Linked DNA regions of Homo sapiens. The protein of the gene in region 7 purifies or fractionates together with the protein of the main gene of each other region. This does not show direct contact. Each region holds a gene or a part of one and is shown on either strand. Other genes may lie near its edges.

Evidence for each region.
Region 1: the proteins of EDNRB (region 7) and BTAF1 purify together in Homo sapiens (affinity purification with mass spectrometry; 2 studies listed by BioGRID and IntAct, with this or other methods). This does not show direct contact.
Region 2: the proteins of EDNRB (region 7) and PDXDC1 purify together in Homo sapiens (affinity purification with mass spectrometry; 2 studies listed by BioGRID and IntAct, with this or other methods). This does not show direct contact.
Region 3: the proteins of EDNRB (region 7) and CIP2A purify together in Homo sapiens (affinity purification with mass spectrometry; 2 studies listed by BioGRID and IntAct, with this or other methods). This does not show direct contact.
Region 4: the proteins of EDNRB (region 7) and ARFGEF2 purify together in Homo sapiens (affinity purification with mass spectrometry; 2 studies listed by BioGRID and IntAct, with this or other methods). This does not show direct contact.
Region 5: the proteins of EDNRB (region 7) and EXOC5 purify together in Homo sapiens (affinity purification with mass spectrometry; 2 studies listed by BioGRID and IntAct, with this or other methods). This does not show direct contact.
Region 6: the proteins of EDNRB (region 7) and ARFGEF1 purify together in Homo sapiens (affinity purification with mass spectrometry; 2 studies listed by BioGRID and IntAct, with this or other methods). This does not show direct contact.

What each region holds. Positions count from the first base shown.
Region 1 is NC_000010.11:91,993,270-91,996,769, reverse strand, and holds part of BTAF1 (TATA-binding protein-associated factor 172), read right to left. Parts: intron 3,077-3,500; coding exon 2,923-3,076; intron 2,236-2,922; coding exon 2,126-2,235; exon of another isoform or gene 2,113-2,125; intron 402-2,112; coding exon 200-401; intron 1-199. UniProt on the Homo sapiens protein: Regulates transcription in association with TATA binding protein (TBP). Removes TBP from the TATA box in an ATP-dependent manner.
Region 2 is NC_000016.10:15,013,026-15,016,525, reverse strand, and holds part of PDXDC1 (pyridoxal-dependent decarboxylase domain-containing protein 1), read right to left. Parts: intron 398-3,500; coding exon 313-397; intron 1-312.
Region 3 is NC_000003.12:108,558,439-108,561,938, forward strand, and holds part of CIP2A (protein CIP2A), read right to left. Parts: intron 2,404-3,500; coding exon 2,211-2,403; intron 1,591-2,210; coding exon 1,516-1,590; intron 1,430-1,515; coding exon 1,319-1,429; intron 1-1,318.
Region 4 is NC_000020.11:48,987,711-48,991,210, reverse strand, and holds part of ARFGEF2 (brefeldin A-inhibited guanine nucleotide-exchange protein 2), read right to left. Parts: intron 2,908-3,500; coding exon 2,823-2,907; intron 2,721-2,822; coding exon 2,549-2,720; intron 1,927-2,548; coding exon 1,775-1,926; intron 1,656-1,774; coding exon 1,527-1,655; intron 172-1,526; coding exon 13-171; intron 1-12. UniProt on the Homo sapiens protein: Promotes guanine-nucleotide exchange on ARF1 and ARF3 and to a lower extent on ARF5 and ARF6. Promotes the activation of ARF1/ARF5/ARF6 through replacement of GDP with GTP. Involved in the regulation of Golgi vesicular transport.
Region 5 is NC_000014.9:57,258,906-57,262,405, forward strand, and holds part of EXOC5 (exocyst complex component 5), read right to left. Parts: intron 1-3,500. UniProt on the Homo sapiens protein: Component of the exocyst complex involved in the docking of exocytic vesicles with fusion sites on the plasma membrane.
Region 6 is NC_000008.11:67,267,282-67,270,781, forward strand, and holds part of ARFGEF1 (brefeldin A-inhibited guanine nucleotide-exchange protein 1), read right to left. Parts: intron 162-3,500; coding exon 62-161; intron 1-61. UniProt on the Homo sapiens protein: Promotes guanine-nucleotide exchange on ARF1 and ARF3. Promotes the activation of ARF1/ARF3 through replacement of GDP with GTP. Involved in vesicular trafficking.
Region 7 is NC_000013.11:77,908,832-77,912,331, forward strand, and holds part of EDNRB (endothelin receptor type B isoform 1 precursor), read right to left. Parts: intron 1-3,500. UniProt on the Homo sapiens protein: Non-specific receptor for endothelin 1, 2, and 3. Mediates its action by association with G proteins that activate a phosphatidylinositol-calcium second messenger system.

The DNA.
Region 1 (3,500 bases), on a different chromosome or scaffold from region 7:
ATCATAAAATGCAAATCAGTTTGTAACACATTTGTAATAAAATACAAAAATATTTCAAAATAAGATGTAAAAAGAATAGGTATTTTTTGGAACAAGGCAGGTTATTTATGTGCATATTAGAACACATCAATTTCATTTTAATTATCCTTAAGTGAAATGAATATAATTCCTGAACAGTTTGTCAAATGAAAAAGGATACAGGCAAGTGCTTCAATTGCACCCTCTTGTTTGACACTGTCATCAATTGCTCCCAGCCACGGAAGAACCTTCTCCAAAAAAATATTCATTGTTTCCATGGTAGCTATTTTGCTCATGACACCTACACAACGAGCAGCCATGTGCCTCACTGCAGTACTGGGGTATTGAAGGCACATATAAAGATGTGGCAAATGCTGGACCAACTAAAAACAAAAAGTTAATGGCAATTAGAATTATTAGGAAATACTGTTTAATATGTAACTATAATAGCCCATACTCAGGAAAGTTTTCAATATTCTAAGTGACTCTAAAAATATCTCCAAATACTTCAAAACATTACTGCCAAAACATTCTCAATAGAAAACTAATCCAAATACAAATTAATGTATTACAACTCTTTCAAAAAGAAGGGAAAAAAAGGTATAGAACCTCTGCTCTGCTCATATCATCTCTTAGGCATATAGGAACACTCAATTCTTTCCAAAATTAACAGGAAACAAACCAAAAAGTACTTGGCAAGATTCTCCTACTGAAGCTGGAAAACAGCACCACACATCACCAGCTCCCTCCAAATTTGGTAGCACTAATTTAGATTTAGGTACATAATTTTTATTCAGTGGCTTGAGTGTTCCTGATTTTATTCTAGCACCATACTTTGGTAGGTATCGTCCACTGTAGCTTCCTGGCTTACCATAGGTGTTATAATCACAACAGCATCACAACAGCACCTTACTAAATGTCTGCTACAAGGAACACCAGAATTAATGCTGATGAGAGCCAGGTATCTGTTCAACAGTTTGATGTGCCTTACAGTTCAGCTGAATGCATGTTGCTAATTATGAAGATTAAGAGCGTACAGATGGACTCTACTTTTTTTTTTCCTTCTTTTTTTTTTTGAGACTGAGTCTCGCTCTGTCGCCTAGGCTAGAGTGCAGTGGCGCGATCTTGGCTCACTGCAACCTCTGCCTCCCGGGTTCCAGTGATTCTCCTGCCTCAGCCTCCCAAGTACCTGGGACTACAGGCATGTCCCATCACGCCCGGCTAATTTTTGTATTTTTAGTAGAGATGGGGGTTTCACCATATTGGCCAGGCTGGTCTTGAACTCCTGACCTCGTGATTCACCCACCTCGGCCTCCCAAAGTGCTGGGATTACAGGTGTAAGCCACCACGCCCGGCCTACTTTTCTTTACTAACAGTAAATCAGCAAAACTTTTAACAAGTAAAAGGACATACTTTATTACTATGTACAAAAAAAAAAATCCATTCTTCTCCACCCTCTCATAGATTCTCCCTTTTGTGTTAAATAACAATAGAGAACTGGGCTAATACCCTTCAAAATGGGGTAAATTGCAGACAGCTTCCTATTGCAGAGATATGAAAAGAATAATATTCTTCTATGAAAAAAACCAGATAATTCTCTATTTTCCTCCTCCCTCTGTCCTAATTCTTTTGTAAGAAACATTTTAATAGTTTTTTAAAAAAATCCCAAACCAGTGTTCTATCTTTGCCACTGACCAGCTTCACCTTAGGCAGGTGACTCCTTTCACCTTTGTACTTATCTAGGAAACAGATTTCATTATATATGCTTTTCCTTTCTTGGAGCTGTATTATTAGGATCATCTGGATGAACAGGGCTGCAGTTTTCTTTCCTATTTACATCTGGCTCCTGTGTCATCAGAGTCCTTTCCTCAATGCCCCCACATTCTAAGCTTCCAGGTTGGGTTTTCTATTAAATTCAAGCAGCCTGGTCTACATCAAAGCCCACAGGAGTTGCACTGTTAGTAAAGGAGGAATCTAGTTATACCACAGCAAAGAAAAATGCAATTAATAAGGATGACATCAAAGCTGTACCTTTCAAACCTTAAGACTTTTTAATAAGACCACTTGTTTTATTTGAAGAAATATTACACTTGCATTAGTTAGTTACCAAGGGATGAAGCTCAGAATCCATTGAAGCTGCTGCTGTTTCAAAAACCTGCAGAGAATTCACCAATTCTTGAGCAGGGCTATCTCCCTTATCCAGGAGGGATTTTCCATCTGTTAAAATATATTGTCTGTATTATCTGGCAAATAATTTTTCAAAATCTAGAGCACACAAAAACTTTTAGCACTTTTTCAGCTAGCATAGGAGAGTCAATTTTGCTTCTTAGTGTTAAAATTAAATGCCATGACCTTAATTTAAGTGCTGGGGTACTACATGTAGAGCAACCAAAGAACTTAAACATAGTGATCCATTTCAAGTATCTCTTTAAAAACAATTTTTTTTTTTTTTGAGACAGAGTCTCGCTCTGTCATCCAGGCTGCAGTGCAGTGGCATAATCTCGGCTCACTGCAACCTCCACCCCCAGGGTTCAAGCAATCCTCCTGCCTCAGCCTCCAGAGTAGCTGGGACTACACGCCCAGCTAATTTTTGTATTTTTGCTAGAGATGGGGTTTTGCCATGTTGGCCAGGTTGGTCTCAAACTCCTGACCTCAAGTGATCTGCCCACCTGGGCCTCCCAAAGTGCTGGGATTACAGGCATGAGCCACCATGCCCAACCCAAATATCTCTTTTATAAAATAAAGGTGTGTGTTTTTTTTAAACCAAGTTTCCATTTTAAAACTTACCAGCTGGTCTGGAATAAACAGGTAGAGGCATAGAGGCATTTTTATTTTATAAGGATATATTCAATTAATAGACATTAAAATTTGTTAAAAACTGGACTCATAAAAATATGTGTATACCAAAATTATTTATGTCGATTGTATTCCTCAATGGGCCAACCATAGCATCCCAGAGATGTGGCAACTTCACTGCCATTTCACCACCAAAATGCTTTACTATAGTTGTCAAAGCAAATTCAGCTCCTCTCCGTTGTACCAGGTAAGGCTTCTGGGCCTTAAAATTAAATGTTAGATAAAAACAGAATTTCAGAAAAAATCATAATACATTTAAAATTTTAACAAAAGAATTTAAAAGTCACCATCTAAGAATTCATAATGTTATCATTAACCAAGTAAGCAATTATTAGACATGTTTGTCTCAATTATAAACATTTCCCAATAATTAAATTTACAGGGGCCTACAACACCTAACTAGATTTTTGTGACCAAAGTAAAACACTTTTTTGGGGTTGAGGATAAGGAACAGACGGATATGTGCTGTTTCTAGAGATAGTCCTAAGTGACATTTTTTTTCCTCCTTCTCTCTACCTCAAAGAAACTTGTCAGCTAGAGAGAAGATAGATGAAGTGATGTGTCCTTATTTACATTCACTTAAGGGATAGTACAAGATCATCTGTTTAAGCTAACCCCAAGATTAA
Region 2 (3,500 bases), on a different chromosome or scaffold from region 7:
TGCACTGTAACAGGAAGATCTGTCCACAGATAGAGGAAACCAAGCCCAGTGCCTGTGACTGGGGGAGCAGAGGTGGGAGTAACACACTGGATCCTGGTTGATGTCGTGCCTGAGGCAGTCATAACACTGCTCTTTGTAGTTATGTGAGCCAGTAAGATCTCTTTGGGCTTAAGCCAATTTGGGTTATTTTGTGATCTGTGACCCAAAGAGCCCTTCGTGATAAATGTCACCAAAGTGAGAGCCTGGATGTCCAGTCCTCATAAGGACTCTGTGCAGGCCCGAATGGAGCCACCAGCCTCACCGCCGGCTTACCCCTCCACATGAAGCCATATGCCATACTGCTCACAGAGTTCTTTCAATCTCCCAATCTTGTCTGTGTGTCCTACTGCTGCCGTTCCTAGGATAAAACACATCAGGGCATTAAAAGGAACAAATGTTTTCTAAGGCTTTATACCTTAAACACTTTTATACACATTATCGCCCTAGGAGGGAAGTGACTTATTATATCCCTATTTTATTGAGATTTTCTTTGTGGAAGGACTTAAAATCAGTGTTTGTGAGTTGACTTATTACAAGCTTTGAAGAGTATGTAATCTCTATTACATGTATCTAATTGTGTCATTGAATTCTTTTATATACTTATTTTCTATCTACTTGATCTGCTGACTCATGAGAAATATATTCAAATCTCCCACCAAGATTGTGGTTTGTCAATATATACTTGTGTTACATCAGACTTTTCCTTTAGCTTTCCTTTATATATTTTAAAGTTATGTTCACAAGCATTCATAACTGTTTTTTTTTTTTTTTGAGACGGAGTCTCACACTGTCGCCCAGGCTAGAGTGCAGTGGCATGATCTCAACTCTGCAACCTCCACCTCCCAGGTTCAAGCAATTCTCCTTGCCTCAGCCTCCCAAGTAGGTGGGATTACAGGCGGTGGCCACCACGCCCGGCTAATTTTTTTGTATTTTTAGTAGAGACGGGGTTTCACTACGTTGGCCAGGCTGGTCTCGAACTCCTGACCTCGTGATCCACCTGCCTCGGCCTTCCAAAGTGCTGGGATTATAAGCATGAGCCACCGTGCCCAGCAGGTATAACTGTTATTTCTTTTAGGAGATTACATCTTTCATCAATATGAAGTCTATTTTATCCCACACTAATATGGCTATGGTACTTTCATTTTGTCAGCATTTGTCCAAGATAAACTTTTCCACCTTTTTATTTTATTGTCACTTCCTGGATTATTTTGATTTAGATATGCCCTTTATAAAAATCATATAGGTGGGCTGGGCACAGTGGCTCACATCTGTAATCCCAGCACTCTGGGAGGCCCAGGCGGGTGGATCACAAGGTCAGGAGATGGAGACCATCCTGGCTAACACGGTGAAATCCCGTCTCTACTAAAAATACAAAAACAAAATTAGCCGGGTGTAGTGGTGGGCGCCTATAGTCCCAGGTACTCGCGGGGCCGAGGCGGGAGAATGGCGTGAACCTGGGAGGCAGAGCTTGTAGTGAGCCGAGATCGTGCCACTGCACTCCAGCCTGGGCAACAAAGCAAGACTCCAGCTCAAAAAACAAACAAACAAAACATATAGATGAATTTGTTTTGTTTCCACCCAGGTTCCTTGTAATACAGAACATGCATTCTGAAGCCAGCTTAAGCATATTAAGCACTTTCAGCCGCTCCCTTGGTAATTGATTGCACTACAGATTTTGCTGGGGAGATCCCTTTTCAGAGAGAGCTTAGTTAAAACGTTGAGTCAGGCATTCCCCCAACCGTCCTAAATTTCCAGTTAGCAGTAAGCCAACTAAAAAGATTTCAAACACTCACCAACGGCCTCAACAAACACAGCTAAAGAAAGTAGTTCTTTTGTAAGGTCTATGCCAGGAAAAGGGCTGAAAACTTTTTCCCCTCATACCTAAATCTACCTCAAATTAAAAAAAAAAAATCTTAACAGACACATTTAGTTTAGCTGAAACAAGATCAAATGTCAATGCATGGGCTGTGCCACAGGCTCTTCCAGCAAAATAAAAGCGTACTGCTGTGTTAGTGCCTGGATCGCATGCAGATTCTCTTTTCGTATTTCTTGGCAATGTCTGGTGACTAACCCTTGACATGTGTCTGCTGACATCTGCAACATAATCACACTGGCAAGTCACTCAGTCACATGCAAACTGCAGCCCCTCCAGTTTATCATGTGATTGAATATGGGTGAATTTGTGTTTTTAAACAATAAGGCAGGAAGTGATGGTTTTCCTGTTGGCAATAAAGTGAATATTTATGTGGTTTTTCTATTTTGTCTTTTTTTTTTTTTTTTGAGACAGAGTCTCACCCTGTTGCCCAGGCCGGAGTGCAGCAGCGCAATCTCGGCTCACTGCAATCTCAGCCTCCTGGGTTCAAGCTATTCTCCTGCCTCGGCCTCCTAAGTAGCTGGGATTACAGGTGCCTGCCACCACAACCAGCTAATTTTTATATTTTTAGTAGAGACAGGGTTTCGCCATTTTGGCCAGGCTGGTCTTGAACTCCTGACCTCAGGTGATCTTCCCGCCTTGGCCTCTCAAAGTGCTGGAATTACATGCATGAGCCACCGCACCCGGCCTAAATAAGCAGTTTTATTGTAGTATGATTTTTTTTTTTTTTTTTTTTTTTGAGACAGAGACCCTTTCTGTCGCCCAGGCTACAGTGCGGTGGTGCGATCTTGGCTCACTGCAACCTCCACCTCCCAGGTTCAAGCGATTTTCCTGCCTCAGCCTCCCAAGTAGCTGGGACTACAGGTGCACACCACCACACCTGGCTAATTTTTGCATTTTTAGTAGAGATGGGGTTTTACCACATTGGTCAGGCTGGTCTTGAACTCCTGACCTTGTGATCTGCCTGCCTCAGCCTCCCAAAGTGCTGGGACTACAGGCATGAGCTCTCATGCTCGGCCTATTGTAGTATGATTTACATGCAACAAAACTCACTCATGTAAGTATACGGTCCAATGAGTTTTGACAAATATATAGAGCATGTAACCATCAACACAATCAAGATTCAGAATACTTCCATCAACCCCCAAATCCCATCAACCCCAATATAATTACCCTTTCCCTGACTCCTCACTGGCCCTGGAAAATCCTGATCTGCTTCTGTCACTGTAGTTTTTTGCCTTTTTTTTTTTTTTTCTTTTTTTTTTGAGATAGGGTCTCACTCTGTCGCCCAGGCTGAAGTGCAGTAGCACAATCTCGGCTCATTGCAAGCTCCGCCTCCCGGGTTCAAGCCATTCTCCTGCCTCAGCCTCTCAAGTAGCTGGGACTACAGGTGCCCACCACCACACCTGGCAAGTTTTATTTATTTACTTATTTATTTTTTACAGAAACAGAGTCTCACTCTGTCACCAAGGCTGGAGTGCAGTGGTGCGATCTCACCTCACTGCAACCTCTGCCTCCCGAGTTCATGCCATTCTCCTGCCTCGGCCTCCCAAGTAGCTAGGACTACAGGTGCCCACCACCACACCCA
Region 3 (3,500 bases), on a different chromosome or scaffold from region 7:
CAGTAAGTTCACTCTTAAGGTATACATTATATATGTACATAATACAATGCCAAATTTACTGAGCACCTATTATGTGCCAAGTGCTATGCTAGGGCCTGGAGCTATAGAAGCAGTCTTTGATACCATGAGTGAGGGAAAAAAGAATTTCCACGTGGTTTGAAAAATGTTATTAAGAGATAAGCGTAGGTTTGATACACAGAGGAAGGATCGTCAAACACGTGTGGGAAGGAGACCAGAGTAGGCTTCTGGGTAATGAGGATATTTTAACTGAAATCTGAAGGATTATGAGTTAGGCAGAAGAGAGGAAATGGTGTTCCAGACATGGAAAGTCAAGTGCCACGACAAGGAAATACGAGAATATGTCAAGTTTCAGAAAAAGCAAAGTGGCCTAACATGGCTGACTGCAAAGAATGCGCAGAAATGAAAGATGTGGATTGAGGCCTATATAGTTAGAATCCTTATATGCCAAACTAAAGAATTTTAATGATATTTGAAAGCAATAGCAGCTACTGTGAAAGATACTCAGCACAAGAGGGACAGGATCATTTTACTGCCTTAGAGATCCTTGGGGGAGCGGCTAGGTGAAGGGGGTAGAACCAAGGAAAGATGACTGGCTGTAGAGTATCTGAGAAGAGGGTAGAAGACTACAGGTAGGAAGACTAATTGCTCTGCTATGATTCATACAAAAAATGAAAAGGATCCAGCCTATAACAAATAGTGGTAGAAGCAGAGATAGGGCAGAAAAGAGTAATATTTAGAAGGTAGAATCAACTGGACTTGGTGAATAATTATAGGAGGTAAAAACTGTGATTTCCAGGGTTCTTATTTGTAGAACACTAAAAACAGAAGAGGGAATACATAAGAATAATTTTAAAAAGGGAAGGGTGATTAGTTCATTATTGGTTATGCTGAGTTTGTGGTATTTGCTGTATATTTAAATGGAGCAACATAGGCACATAGTGCTCAGGAAAATGATCTGTGCTTGACATATAAAATTAGGAACATTACTATTTTGGTAACCATTGAAACCACAGAACACATAACTAAAGGAAAAAGGTTTAGAATATAAGTCCCAGAGTCCCCAACACTTAAAGGTACAAAATAAATAACATAGGAAAATAATACAAGGTAGCAAAAAAAAATCAGGTAACGATGTAACCAAAATTAAAGAGGACAGAATTTCAGGAAGAAGGAAGGAGGCATGTCAAATGCTAAGGAGAATTTACTTCAATTAGAGTAACAAATACATAACTAATATTTTGCATGTTTTACTTATTAATTTTTCTACAAATCAGATGTGTCTTTATATTCTACACACCTCTGTTTCAGCTTGAGTTCTTTGACAGCGATGCTGAGCAATCAGTCTATCAGCCTGTGCAAGGGCTAGAGCTTTTGTTTCCAAAAGATCTTGTAGCCTGCTTTCTTTGGACTACAAGAAAACATATCATTAATTTTCATTTTAGGAATACATCTATTAAAGCTTATTACACATTGTTAAAATAAGCTTATACTCACAGCTAATGTGGATAGTTTCATTTCATATACATCCATTATGTCAGATATTCTCACATCACAAATCTGATCCTTTACCTACATTTTAAGAGTAAAAAAACTTAAAATTTTAATAAAATATTTTGACACAATGACAAAATAAATGCCTACTTCAAAACTAAATCATTAAAACTTAATGATGAGTAACAAAATAAAAACAAATGCTACATCAGGTAAGTCACAAATATTTCTTTTTTTTTTTTGAGATGGGTCTCACTGTCACCCAGGTTGGAGTGAAGTGGTATGATCTTGGCTCACTGCAACCTCTGCCTCCTGGGTTCAAGTGATTCTCCTGCCTCAGCCTTCAGAGTAGCTGAGACAACAGGCATGAGCCAACACGTCCAGCTAATTTTTTGTATTTTTAATAGAGACGGGGTTTCGCCATATTGCCCAAGCTGGTCTTGAACTCCTCAGCTCTGGCAATCTACCCTCCTTGGCCTCCCAAAATGCTGGGATTACAGGCGTAAGCCACCGCACCCGGCAAAATGTTGAAATTTTGACTGATTTTTCTTATTTCCAAATTTTCCAGAATATTGTTATTTCTTATATTAAGGTTTCAATAGTGAAATCTGTACCTGACAGTGTTTAGATACACGTTATAATTGGGACTGACATATAGCTAATATGTACCAGGTTATAATTGCTATTTTTTCACTCACCACCATTCCAGACTGAAGTTTCTCTATTAATTCTTCAATATTCAATCCAGGAACACCATCTTTCAAATGAGGAGTTAAACACTTTATTGATGTTGGAAAACTGTGATTTGATGATTGCCAGGGCATTTTTCTGGGTATATGTTCTGTTTCCTGTTGTCTATAGGCATTGTTTGCTGCTATACTTTCTCCAAGTCTGAATGGGAGTCAAAGAAAGGAAAAAAAAATTATACGAAAATAGAAGAAAAGGCAGACTTAGTGCAGAATTAGGGAATTTTTAAGAATGGGTCCTTTTTTTGAATAGAAGTCTTCAAATAATCTTGGAGACCATGATGAAATGAAGTCTTGGGAAATATTCTGAATTTTCCAGAGCACCCACTTTTCTGTTTCTAACCTTTTATAATGACAGCTTCACCTCTGGTTTGGAGGCATTGTAAGACTAGTTTATGAGTGTGGATTATCTGTAATAAGTACAAAGTTATTGGTACTGGTCAGAATAATGTTCTTATCATGGGTGATATCACCTGGCCTTTACGTCCTTAGTCCTTTTCCTTTCTCACTCAGTACATACTTTTCACCAACCTGACTTCCATTCTAACCCTTTAAAATCCTCTCTTTCTCCTACCTCAGGCCTTCATATGAGCTGTTCCTTTATCTGGAACACGCTTTCTACCACAAAACAAAATATTTTTTTCACTTATCTCTTAACTAAAGTGCAAACTGCAAGATGGCAGGCACTCAGCCTAATTTATTATAGGCTGGGCATGGTGGCTCACACCTGTAACCGCAGCACTTTGGGAGGATCACTTGAGTCCAAGAGTTCGAGACAAGCCTGGGCAACCTGGTGAGACCCCTCTATAAAAAAATAAATTAATTAAGCAGTTGTGGTGGCACAAGCCTGTGGTCCCCGCTACTCAGGGGGTTGAGTTGGGAATATCACTTGAGCCCCAGAGGTCGAAGCTGCAGTGAGTCATGATCACACCACTGCACCCCAGTCTGGGTGATAGAGTGAGACCCTGTCTCGAAAACAAACAAGTAAATACACACACACAAAAACCCTACCTACCAATGCATCCATAATATACATTCAGTTTATTAAACGCCCAAGATAATGTCAAATAAGGGCATTAAATAGTAAGCATAAAATGGACATCTGAGATAATGCCCAAAGAGAAAATTATTTACAACACAAATAAGACAGGGAATGCCAAGACACAGTCAAAATGGTGGGAAGGCCTCACACACAGAGGCAGAGGATAAGACTTCCATGTTCAGTGAGGCTGCAGATTCCCC
Region 4 (3,500 bases), on a different chromosome or scaffold from region 7:
AGAGACACGTACCTCATGCCAGGAATTCCCAAGGTAGTTGCCATCGGTGTGAGCCACTGTGATAAGCGTCTTAATGGTGTCGATGTTTTTCTGCTTCATTTCTGTGATGCTGGAGCTGGCTGTGAGTAGGGAGAAGCGAGCAAGAGCCTGAACATAGGCATCTCGTTCCAGCTGTAACAGAAACCCAAGAGAGAACACTGTGACTCCAACCTTAGTGTGGCCATTCTCACATCTGCAGGGCTGGCACACTGGGCTTCTCTGATACTTTTTGTATGCACATTGACTGGCTTTCTGCACATTAGCACAACAGTTATTCCATGCTAATGCCCTCTTGCTTTTGGAACATCTTGCAGAGGTATCTATGCACTGCCACATGTTTGAGAAGCAGCTCTCTCCTTTCTAATTGACTTCAGTCAAACTCACCTGTCCCATGTTCCACTATGTCTGTTGAATACTAAGACTGTCACACAAATTGACATCTGCAACAATTCTGCCAGGCAGGTCTGTTTTCTCAAGTTTACAAATGAGGAAATGAATTGGTGTCTCAGAGAGACTTTAGCTGAGCCAATGTCACATGGTTGGAGAGGTGGCAGAGTGGGGTCTTGAAACCTAGATGGTCTAACGTCAAAGCTTGTGGTCTTGGTATAAAAGAAAATGTCTAACTGTAAAATGAATAGGAACAGAAGATTGAGTTTTTAAAAATAAATGGGGTGCAACTTCTGACTTACAAAGTGATGCATGGGATTGTCAACCTCCTAATTTCGTAACAGTTTCAGAATTACATTTCATTTATTTGCTTGAACTTTTCAAGTTTCAAAGGTTTACAGACATATTCATATTGCATTGAACTACTTGTTTCTCCAGGGAAGAGTTGGAAATATGCGAAATTATAATAAAAACTGATGTTAAAAAGGAAATAGTATTTTTAAGCACCAAAGCAGGCAAGTTAGGCAGATGAACACGAAGTCTGCTTTGTCAAATCCAGTCAAGAAGCTTGGACCCTACCTATTATTATTATTATTATTTTCTTTGAGATGGAGTTTCGTTCTTGTCACCCAGGCTGGAGTAAAATGGCGCGATCTCGGCTCACCGCAACCTCCACCTCCTGGGTTCAAGCCGGTCTCCTGCCTCAGCCTCCCGAGTAGCTGGGATTATAGGCATGTACCACCACACCCGGCTAATTTTATATTTTTAGTAGAGATGGGGTTTCTCCATGTTGGTTAGGCTGGTCTCGAACTCCCAACTTCAGGTGATCTGCCTGCCTTGGCCTCCCAAAGTGCTGGGATTACAGGCGTGAGCCACTGTGCCCAGCCTACCCATTCTTAAAGACAGTTTTAATCCGTATCTCCATTTTTGCCCCTAACGAGCTGTCATCACAAAGCTACGGATTTCTTGTCAGTAGGCATAAGTAAGTAGCTTGCTAAGAGTCTTGATTAACTGAAAATTTCTGATAATTTCTAAGTTTTGCCAAATCTAAAAGAGCACAACCCACCAGTATCTCTGGAGTGTTGCTGACTTACACCTACCTGCATTCCAAAGATGCAGGCGATTCGGATTGCACATCGGATGCCTTCCAAACACAAGGAGGCCACTTCAGTGTCATCACAGTTCTGGAGTCCGATGCTGTAGGCTGCCAATAGTGGCGTCCACACCAGCTATCATGGAAGGAAGATTTCAATAACATCCAGAGTTTTAGCGTGGAAAGAGTACTTCTCGCTGGCCAGCTTCAGAATCAGGCTTAGCCACATGCTTGCTAAGTTCTCAGGATACTCACTTTGAACATTGGCCGGACATGGTCCAGGTGAGTGGCACTGGTAAACGGGGCTTTGGCATGGCTCACAGCCTCCATCAGAGCTTTGGCTGTTTTAGCCATTTGCTCCATCTCTAAGTTGTACAGCAGCCGCCGCTGCTTTTCACTAGCTACATCTGTAAAGTAAGAGCATGATAGGTGTGGCTAGCAGTCACTGAGGGCTGGCTACATGCCATACACTGTTTCAAAAGATGCACAATGATTAACTCCTAAATCCTCCCAACCATCTCGTGAGTCCATTACAAATATTATTATTACCATTTTACAGATGGGAAAAATGAGGCAGAGGGGGTAAGTCACTTGCCCAGGGTCATACAATTACTAAGTAGAGGAGCTGGGACTTGATCTAAGGCAGTGTGGCTCTAGAGCCACACTCTAAACCACTACCCTTTGCTGCTTCTCAAACAGTGAAACTGACAGCTCCCCAGGGGCCATAACTAATAGAATTCTAATCAAGGCGGACACAATCTGAATTAAAGAAAAGTTTTAAAGAACACTTTTTGGGAGTAATTTAGTTCTCAGATTACTAATTTTAAATTCCTTCTTGCTCCTCATCAGAAATCTAGCAAGACAGTGACATTATAAAAGTCCCAACATAATCACAATAATTAATTCAATCACATTTCCTATTCAGATATCCAGCTATGCACATTAAATTTATCACCAGAGTATTTAATCATGCATTCTGATACACTAAAAAATTAGAACTAAAAGAAATAATTTGCCATTAGACCTTACTCTGCTTAGTAGATTTGGTTGCAATCGTTAGCTCTTTTGTTTCTTTCATTGCAATTTTCTTGCCTTCTATCTCTTCATAGATGCTTGAGAGATACTCTTCTGGCAGATCTTTACTATCATTGATACCCCGATTCATTTTAATATACTGCTCTTTCGTCATTTTATTTTTTACCTGTAATTAAAAAAAATTAAAAACCATTTAAAAAACATCCAATTGCCCAAGTAAAGCCACTTATTTAGCTAATACAACATGTAAATCATTAAAGTGCTTTACCTGAGGACTGTGCAAGTCTGTAGTCAGCATAATAATTGAATACGCTAGGACATAAGCAGTGTCAGCACTAGCAAACAGAGTTTGCCTGGAGAAAAAAATTCGAGACATCAATATTCATGGTGATGCGGTTTGGAAGGTACAATGCTAACAGAGACACACTTCACGAGAAAAGCAGCCGACTACTCCCCTTGATTCCAAATGAGGCAAGAGTTTTTACGCTTTCATCATCACTGAACAAGACTTAGCAACCCAGAGTGTAGAAAAAGCTCATTAACAATCTGTATCAAATTTTAGCTTCTTTGGCAGGGCGTGGTGGCTCAGGCCTGTAATCCCAGCACTTTGGGAGGCCGAGATGGGTGGATCACCTGAGGTCAGGAGTTCGAGACCAGCCTGGCCAACATGGTGAAACCCAATCTCTACTAAAAATACAAAAATTAGCTGGGCGTGGCAGCGGGTGCCCATAATCCCAGCTATTCGGGAGACTGAGGCAGGAGAATTGCCTGAACCCGGGAGGTGGAGGTTGCAGTGAGCTGAGATTGTGACACTGCACTCCAGCCTGGGTGACAGAGCGAGACTGTCTCAAAAATAAATAAATAAATAATAAAAATTGAGGCTTCTTTGAATAAAGCAATTTCAAATAATTTTTTTTAAAAAGACTCTAAGAAGCATCTGGGGCCA
Region 5 (3,500 bases), on a different chromosome or scaffold from region 7:
TAAAGTAAGTCTCAGATCGTTTCAGAGAGATATTTCTGTATCTTGTTAAACCAACTAACCCATCGGTTCAAAAGTACTGCCTATCATGTATTTTCCTTAAATTTATTATGGATACCACTGTCTAACAAATCATTAAAACACTACCTCCTTTTAGTGAGAAACTTCCCTATATAATTCCTACTACACTATCAAATTCACACACACTTTTCTTTTTTTTTTTTTGAGATACAGTCTCACTCTGTCACCCAGTCTGCAATGCAGTGGTACAATCTCGGCTCCGCCTCCTGGGTTCAAGCAAGTCTCATGTCTCAGCCTCCTGAGTAGCTGGTATTACAAGTGTGCGCCATCACATCCGGCTAATTTTTATATTTTTAGTAGAGATGGGGTTTTGCCATGTTGGCCAGGCTAGTCTCTAACTGCTGGCCTCAAGTGATCTGCCCGCCTCAGTCTCTGGAAATGCTCGGATTACAGGTGTGAGTCACCACATGCAGCCAAGTTCACACTCTTATATCTACCCTTTAGGGTTCTTATCTTGTACCACCTACCCAAATTTCTCTGTACCTCAAAACAAACAGCCACACTTCCGTCAGACTATTCCAGTCTTCTTTTCAAGCCCATGCTACTCCTGCTTCCTAACCTGTGGCCAGGTAACTCACCCCACCAAGTATGGCCTTTCTCCTCCAACAATTCAAACACTGCTATACCATTATTCAAAGCCTGGCTCTATTCCCGTTTCTTCTTTGAAGGGTTCCTTCCTTACATGGTCTCCATTAATTTCTCCACTCTTAAACCCCTATGAAGCTTAAAAATTCAAATCCCAACACAGAACATTACTAATTGTCATTTTGTCATTTATTGATTTAGAATCATTTTCATAAGTTTCACTCTTTTCTCCATACTTAAATTGAAAGCAAGGGGATGCTGTGTCATACATTTCTCTTGCTTTCCAGCTGTAGTCAACAGAACAATGCCGAGCATACCAAAACACTAGCTAGTTGGGGCCATGGCTGAAACCCCTGCAGAGGGTCTTGAAAGTCATGCTCTTGATCCATACATCCAAAACCAAAAAGGCAGGACCACCACCCCACAACCCAGAAATAAAGAACAGGCATTACATGGTACTATCAATCAAAGATTCTAACAGAAACCAAATATGAGCCTAATACAATTCTGGCACTACAAAGAACTAAAAGAATTTTATAATATTCGGCCTCTACTTTCTAACCCCATTTTCTTTGATTTTTCAGTGAGATTCTTTACGTGTTTTCTGTATATTAATAAATAAGTTATATTTATTGAATACTGAGTTTTTAAAAAAGCACCACAAAATATTTTGTCTCAGGCTAGCAAAATGGATTTCAAAGGTAGTATGAAAAGGTAGAAAAATAAAGCTCATTAAGACACTAATATAACTAAAGCAAACTTTGAAAAAGTATTTTGAAAACTACTTGCACAAACACTACAAAATAAATAATTTTACTTTTTAAAATTAGTCAATGTTAACATTCAATCTTGAAGCCCTTTAAACTATGAAATTAGCCAATTAATCATGTTATCAAAATTGTTTTGAAGACTATTTAAACGATGGTAGTTTAGAATCTTACAAAATATTTTAGATTCTCTTAAGCAAAATATTTTTCCAGGATAGAATATATCTCATTTCGAACAGTAAAGTTATATATATTATGTCTATGTCCAAAAGGGAAAGGTAACAAATGTTACAATTCCTGTTACACTAGTCTCAGCAGAATCATATAATTAGATTTAAAATTCGTAATGCAAGAATGTTCTTTAAATATCATCACAGCCCAGCTCTTTCATCTCATTTTTATAAATAAAGAAACTGAGGAAATGAAATTTAAGTCTTATCAAGGTACTAAACCAGGATTCTAACCCAGATATTTTTCCCACTCTATTATAGTGCCTTTAACATTTATAGACTGTGAAATTACTTTAAATATTTAATAAAATCTGCCATTAGCATTTCAAATCAAATTAAGTGTATTGCCAAATACACACGTTAAATATTCTTACAGGCATTTAATAGACACCTTGGAAATGAAATTAAACAAGTGAAAGAATCATTTGCTTCTTTCGTTTATTATAACTTGAATAAGCAAAGATATGTAAATAACTATATTTTCTCATTTTCAAATTTCGGCTTCAAGGAAGTAACATCAGAAAAGTTTGCTAAGTTTTAAAAATATATATATACATAAACTATTGACAATCAAACTTTTAAATTATTTATCACTCAACTAGAACTTTCGTTTAATTTGTAGGTTATGTTTATTTGCACGGTGTTACATGAAATTGCAATCCACTTTTAAGAGAACAAGGCAATCAATCACTCTTTCAAATCTCTCTCACACATGTGGGCACACACACACCTCAACTATCTAATTTCCTGGGAACACCAGGGACTCAGTATTTTAGATTAATTACACACATGTGCAGTCTATAATACTGTCCTCAATTTAATGACTTGCTTATTCCAAAAGTTCACTTCCAAGTTGCTTGGACTGGAGAACTCCAAAGCATAAAATACTTAAATGGAACTCTATTACTCTTAAGCATCAACCTCTACCTCTACCACTGTCTCCACTAAGACCAGCAGAAGGCTATTAGATCTTGGTGCAGGTAAGAAATTGATCGGCCTCTGTTACAGTTATCTATTGCTGCCTAACAACCACTCAAATAGTTAGTGGCCTAAAATAACAATAATCATACTGTTCACAAATCTGATTGGAGGAGGGCTCAGCAGGGAAACCTGGTCTCTGCTCCACATGAAATAAGCTGGGGCTGCTCAACTTGGCTAGAAGATAGTCTTCCAAGATGGCAAGTTGGTGTTTACTGTTAGCTGGGAGTTCAGCCAGAGCCAAGGGCAAAGGGCCTTGGTTCTTTCAAAGGGCTGCATGGGCTTTCTCTTGGCATGGCTGCTAGAGTCCAAGAGGTTACCTAACCTTGCAAATCACTACATAGCATCACTTCTATAGTCATAGGCCTGTACAGATTCAAGAAGTGAACACAGAACCTACTTCCTATGGGAGGGGCATAAACATCACAATGTAGGATGGCAGATCTTGTGACCATCCTGAAAAATACAACCTTCCACAGCCCCTTTTTGTAATCCTCTCCTACTATAATCTCCTACTTCTTGGATCATTTACTCTGAGTCAACTGAGACTGAGAAGGCTGAAGTGTTCCCTCCCTGATAGATCTCTAATCTAGTTCTCATCTCAATCCACTTAAATTGAAAGTGGCCAACACCTAATTTTTTAAAATGGATACTACTCTCTTAATAGTATGCTTCTAAGCAATTTAAATTTCTCAACTCAATTTAGTCATCAAAAAAACCTTCTGAAGTAGATACCATTATTTCCCCCATTTTACAGATGAGAAAACTGAGGTACAAAGAGGTTGGGTAACTTGCCAAGATCACACAACTAGTAAGAGGCAGAGCTGAGAGATGTCTTCCACCTCCTGGCTAAATTACCACC
Region 6 (3,500 bases), on a different chromosome or scaffold from region 7:
ATTTGGCCTTTTAAATATCTAATAATAAGAAAGAGATAATAAAAAGGATAATTTAAAATACCTGCACAAATCCTCGTCAGTGTCTGAATAACCATCCATTTGTGATCAAATGAGCTGGTAGAAGTTTCCAAAATGTATAAGAAAATTTCTTTAAAGAACACCTGTGATTAGGAGAAAACTTCTGTTTAAAATATTGTTTAGAATTCATATGTGTGATCACTTTTTAAACATCCCAGAGCTATAGAGCAGGTATTAGGACCCAGGCTCTTATGGAGTTCAACTCCTTTTGAGTTCCATCTCTGAATCCTCAGGACTAAAATATCTTGGGTAAGTGACTTAAACTTGCCCTTCTAGTTATCAGTACTGCAATTCACATTGATGTGTTTTGTTCTCAACACAGCTGCTACAAAAGAAATATGCAAAGATTTAGAGTTCCTCTAGGTGATAATTTCTTTAACATTTTTACAGAATATAACTTACGCTTTTTTAATCCCCCTCCAAAAGCGTAATTTATACTTCTGTTCATCAGTTATATTTTTCAGAGACGTTCTAGTACTGAGAGGCCTAACTGTTCGTAGATTTAAATGTAACTGATACTCTAATCAACACAATAAAAACAATCTAAGTCTCATACGGTTTTATTTTTCTAATTACTCACAAAAGTGAAAATCTCTACTGTTTGAAAACTACATATGAACTATTTCTCACTACTCTTTACACCAAATAATCAAGCAGTGAGTTAATCAACCTAATGAGATAAATTTCAATTTAACAGATAAGAATTTTCAGATTTAAATGTATTCTATAAAAGTGACTTTAAGAAGGAATGACTGAAACAACCAACATATTAACATTTATGAAACATATGCATTATGAACCCAGAAAATCACATTTATAGTATCTCCCCCTAACTGGATTAGGTACCCCTGTAATGTGATTTTCTTTCACAAAACTCAGCATATTTCTATTTACTTGTTTAATATCAGTATCTCCTATAGACTGTAAGCTTGAAGACAGTAATGACCAGGTCTTTCTTGATAAAGATCACGTCCATATTGCAGGGCACATAGTAGGTGTTCAATAAATACTTATGGCAACATGGCCACAATTCCCAAAAACTGCATCAAAGTACCCCAGAATGCTGTAGCAAACTCATGAGGGTGCCCTGAAAAAATTCTGAGGCAAAATTCAGAGGGAGATACATCTGTTGGATACCTCAAAAGATTGCTCATGGTTTCAAATAAATCACACTACATTCCCTTCAATGACATAATTATCTCCGCAAAGCTGGGTTTTGGTAGTTGCTATGATAAAAAACCAAGTACTGAATGAAAATCAATGAAGTACAGGAATGAGGGGGACAGTATTCAATTCCAAGATCTAAGAAGCTGTGTGCAGTTTCTAATAGGCACACGCATCCCAGTGGTAAGTAATTGCGGTAAAGAATAAAATAAAAACATTATTTTTCTTTTACTTTATGCATACTATTGTCTTTGAAATACATAGTAGGCTGTGAAGACAAATATCCATTAAGTTGTTTGGCCCTGCCTGCTTAATAAATAGAACATAGAACTGGAGGTATTCCTCTGGCCAAAGTGCAACTTTCATGAAAAGTCAGACTTGTGAATCAAAAACTTTTGGGATCCTCTGATTGACAAAATAAATAATATAGACTGGAAGAGAGAGGGAAGAAAAAATTTTAGCTACTATCAATGGTTTATCAAATTGCACTAATAAGCAAAAGTCTATTGCTGTAATATAAGATATTATGCCTATCATAATAGGGGCTCTAAAAAAATCAACCTTTTAATAATTTATCGAGGACCTATAATGTATGTATGTGGAACAACAGCTATATCTTAAGTATGCTGTCTTCACATATGTTCTCCTGAAAAGTTGTACATAAACTGTATCTTCTGGAATAGATATATAATTTAAGACCCATGAAAAAATCACATCACAGAAACTCTGAAGTGAATATTCTCATAAAATGAATCTTCATGTAAAAACAATCTTAATTTTGTTTTGCAAATTTAGGTTTTCATAGCTGGGCTTTCTCCACGTTCAGCTTTTTTTTTTTTTTTTTTTGAGATGGAGTTTCGCTCTTGTTGACCAGGCTGGAGTGCAATGGCGCGATCTTAGCTCACTGCAACCTCGGCCTCCCAGGTTCAAGCGATTGTCCTGCCTCTGCTCCCAAGTAGCTGGGATTACAGGCATGCACCACCACACCCGGCTAATTTTGTATTTTTAGTAGAGATGGGGTTTCTCCATGTTGGTCAGGCTAGTCTCGAACTCCTGACCTCAGGTGATCCACCCGCCTCGGCCTCCCAAAGTGCTGGGATTACAGGTGTGAGCCACTGTGCCCGGTGCTCAACTCATTTATAATTTGAGTGTGTATAACATTTTTGAAAGTATATCTATATTTATCTCATTTTACCCTCATTATCGCCCCCTGAGGGACAATAAGGAGTGAAATAAACCTAATTTTTAAAAATTAGAATATTATAATAATTTTGTAATGAGAATCTGACATCTACAAATTGACAAGAAATTTCTTAAAGTTTTTCCTTTCAAATTCATTTTTGCAAAGTTGAATTTGCTGTGCAAAAATAGTAATCTCAACTTAAATAATTTTTGATATCTAGATCTAAGAATTTATATTTTACTGTCGGTAAACAGTACCTACAGAAGCAGAATCTCAGTGTCCAAAAAAATCTGTAATTGGTTACATAAAGTATTACAAAATTTTCTAATGCCAACTTAAATGTCTCATCATCAGATGAAAGACTTCTGGTTTTTTACAAAAGCAAAAGTTCTAAAAGTTTTTTTAACTGTCTTTTATTTATAGTTCCTACAGATAATGGGGAAAAACTATCTAAAAACGGCAACTCTTCCTAGTTAAACGCCTTGTATTATCTTAACAGACATATGGCAAACTCTTAAAACTTGACATCATACATCATATAGGCACCAAAAATGGTTTCCTGTCCAAAAATATGGCCCAAATTAAAAAGCTTTTCACTTAAAATACCAAGGCCTAATTCTGTTTCATTCTCATAACAATGCTCTAAATCAATCTTGATAGCTATTACAGAACATTAACATTAAAGGATAATATGACTATTTTAGCCATTTCGAAATTCTGGAAAAATAATTTATCCTTTCTAACAAGCTAGTGAATTATGAGTCTTGAGTTAGGATTAAATATAAAATTAACAAAAATTAAAATATAACCTGTATATCAAACATAATATGAAGGTAAAAACTGACAACATAAAAATGAGTATTTCAAAACCATACAACATCACAACCAAAACAACATTTCAACAAATAACAAATTGAAAAAAGCATTCATTAAATTGGTAAAACATAAAGTACTATTTTTAAGTTTTATTTGAAGATGAAAACAAAAAATCAGAAACTGGTACACCTTAAAAAAAAAAAAAAAAAAAACCACATAAAGCTGGGCGCAGTGGCTCACACCTATGCTCCCAGCACTT
Region 7 (3,500 bases):
GCTTCCACATAAATTAAAATTTTAAATCCTGTTTAAAATTCAGTTGAATATATGTTACCTAACATTGATCAAATATGAGCCAGTTGGCAATACTCACATAACTGGCACTGGTTTTCATATCATGATGTCTCATCTAACTGAATAGCTGTTGTTAGTGTTAAGTCCTGCTGGCAATATGGTATCCATTTGACAAAATGATAGCCTATGTTTGTGCTGACCCATTTTACCCTAAGGCTTATACTGCTTCTCTAGAACATTTCTTTTGGATGATAAACACAAATAAATAAACACTAGATTGAAAAAAGGTGTGGCCATACTGGCTAAAAGATTTCTACTCAAGAAAGACCGTGATTTTATAACTTTACCTTGGAACAGCTGCTTGAGAAAGAAACAAGGCAAGAGAATCCAAATAAATTATTCTATTACATTATAAAGTCATTTTGATATTATAGTTTAAAATTTTTCTAAAAGGATAAATAGCATGAATAAGAAACAAATATTCTTTACTTATTTGAGGGTTTTGTGAAGTGAATCCTACAAAATCTCTCTAACCAGGGGATTTACATGTTTCATTTCTCTTTTTAATTAAAAATCACATACTTGAGATAATAAATGAAGAAAAAAAATCCTGTTAACACACACCCCTGTTAATGCCAAAAGGAGTCAAGCCCCATAAAGTCAGGAAATGTCAAAGTTAACCATCTTGTACAAGCAAATGTTCACTCACCTCATTAAACATAGATAGCATTTTCTTTTTCTACTTTATTAAATTACAAATGTACATTGAGCTTTAACTGTTTATTTGTTTCAGAATATTCTACAACATTTATAATGCCTAGTACAGTGATTGGCACACAGTGGTCACTCATTCAATGTTTGTTAAGTAACGATGAACGGATGAGTGGATGAATGAATTTGATCACACGGCAGAAATCATCTATGACAAAACATTTGTCATGAGCTTTTCAGTTCTCATACTCTACATATATTCTTTAGATAATTGACATGACTGTATATTTACTATTTATATTTTCTAGTACTGATGATCAGGTCTTCTTGGCACATAGAGTCAGAAACTCTAGAATTGAGGCTTGAGAGTGGGCTGGACTCTTGTTGGAGTTCTGCTCTTCCATGCAGGGCGGAAAAGGTAACGACAAAAATTCCTCTCCCACCCTCTCTCTCCTACTCAAACTTGTCAAGGCAATGACTGATACAAAACAGAACCTACTGTTTCTCACTATGTAATGGGAGTCTATGAAGAGCTTCAGCTGTGGAGAGGATTGTTAAGTTTCGTGGAAGTAGATGCAGTAAACATAGGAGCATTGTAAGAGATGATTGTTTTAGAGGATGAGTGAGTGGTGTAATTAAGAGGACAACCAAGATTACTTTGCCAGACTGCAGTCTATTCCATCCTGTGATAAGTTGTGAACGTTTCTTTAAACGACTGGCATTATATAAATGTTTTCACAGTAAGAGTCAAAAAAGGAAAATAATGGAATGGCTGCATTTCACAACTTTAGGAAAGGGTGTATTCTGTTTTTGTCTCTGTTTCCTGTAGTAGTTAAGAGTTTTTCTGTGTTTGAACTAGAGTTTTAATGAGATAGGGCACCTTCACTAAAGGACTTCCATGCCAGAACTCTTTCTGTATTAATACACAAAGAAATAGTTCAAAGTAAGCTTTGAATTTGGAGTCAATATGCTGATCAAGTGCATGGAAATATTTTCTTCTTGACATACAGTGCACCGTGCCCTGAAGGACAAATATAAATTACAAGTTCTACCCTGCATCCATCAGAATGCCCTTAATCACTTAAAGATTAGCCTATGTGAGTTAGAAATATGTGGGTCAGAAATAATGTTAGCTTATCCCCCAGGGGTGCCATCTCAATAGATTACAATAAGTACAGTGCCCCCTAGAGTTGTGCAAGGCAGCGGTTCTGTCCATGGGAATCTATTTCACACACATCCACAAAACAGAGGCCTTTTCACAGCTCTGGAAAGATTCCTCTAACTTGCTGAAATAGAACAATGGCTTATGAAAATGAATTAAAGTTCTTGAAACAAAATCTCTAAGAGAAACATAGAGATAGAAAACAATTTTTTAAAAATATTTCTTAAGAGAAATTGAAGTTTACCTCAAATATATTTTCCTACCAGAAATTTATTTCTGAGTCTGTAACAGGCCAGGAAAGAAATTGATTGTACTCTTTTATTATCTAAATTTAAAAATATATCCATAGTTTGAGCTTTAAAACTATCACCGACATATTACATATTTTGAAAAGATCCAACTAAGGGAAATAACAAACCCCATTCACAAACCTGGCCTATTATTAGTTCACTTATCTGAGCTGGATCTTCTAAGATCACTGGTGATATCTGAAGACACAGAAGAATGAGAACCTGAGGGCCTCCTGGCTCAGAACGAGACTTGCAAACTACATGAATTCAACAAACCTTATTAAGTAACTTCATGCCATACCTAAGCCTAATTCTATCTGTGGAATATCTTATGGGAGACTAATAAGCTGTGATCAGAAAATGTCTGATTACTATGGAATCTGAAAGCTCATTAAAATAGGCTGAACACACTGAGTGAGTGGGAAGAAGACAGCGTACAGTGTAAACATTCTGAGGATAGTTTTCCTCCTTTCTGGAAACTACAATGAAACTGAAGAAGACAGAAGTGGGGAAAAGACACAGGTCAGCAGGCATGAGTGCAGTTTTGAGCCTCAAAAGGGGAGACTTGCTTGAGAAATGCTTCAATCAATTTTGCTAATAAATTTCTGATTCAAGAATGATCCTCTTCTATCTTCTCCCTTCACGCCTTCTCCTCTCTCTCTCCCTCTCTCCCATCCACCACCACATTTTGGCCATTTTCTTGTTCCTTTACATTTTCACCAGAGGCCCTACAGGGAAGGATAAATAACTCTCTAAAATAAAAGCCTTGGAAATAATAAAAAGTCTAAAATTAGAGAAGTTGTTGGCTAAGGTATACCCACACACCACATTCAGCTATCTCCCAAACATAACCAACTTCTTTTTAACTGTGCAAAGTCCTGAAAGAGAATGTTTCACATCATAAATTACATCTTGAATCTTATTTCAGCTCAGGCTTTATCTGTCAACACCCTTTAAAGAACTTAATCATTTATTAGCATTTGGCATGTTTCTCTAAAAATAATCAACTATAGCATATTAGCTACACAGAGATACCCTTATATGGTTTTCTTTGTGAATTGAAGAACATGGCTCCCTGGCCTGGAGACAACAGGGTCTTGGCTACGTTATCCTTTTGTACAACTATGGAAATATCTTCAATCTTGAAAGACTCATTTTAAATGAGCAAACTGAGAAATGTAAACCTTTTGATAGATAAGCCTTACCATATTGAAAGAAAACCTTACCTTGACATTTGTAGAGGCTTGGATTTACGGAGTGACCAAGTGGCAGATCAAAGGCACACACAAGAAATACCATCAAATTGAACCTAGGGAACC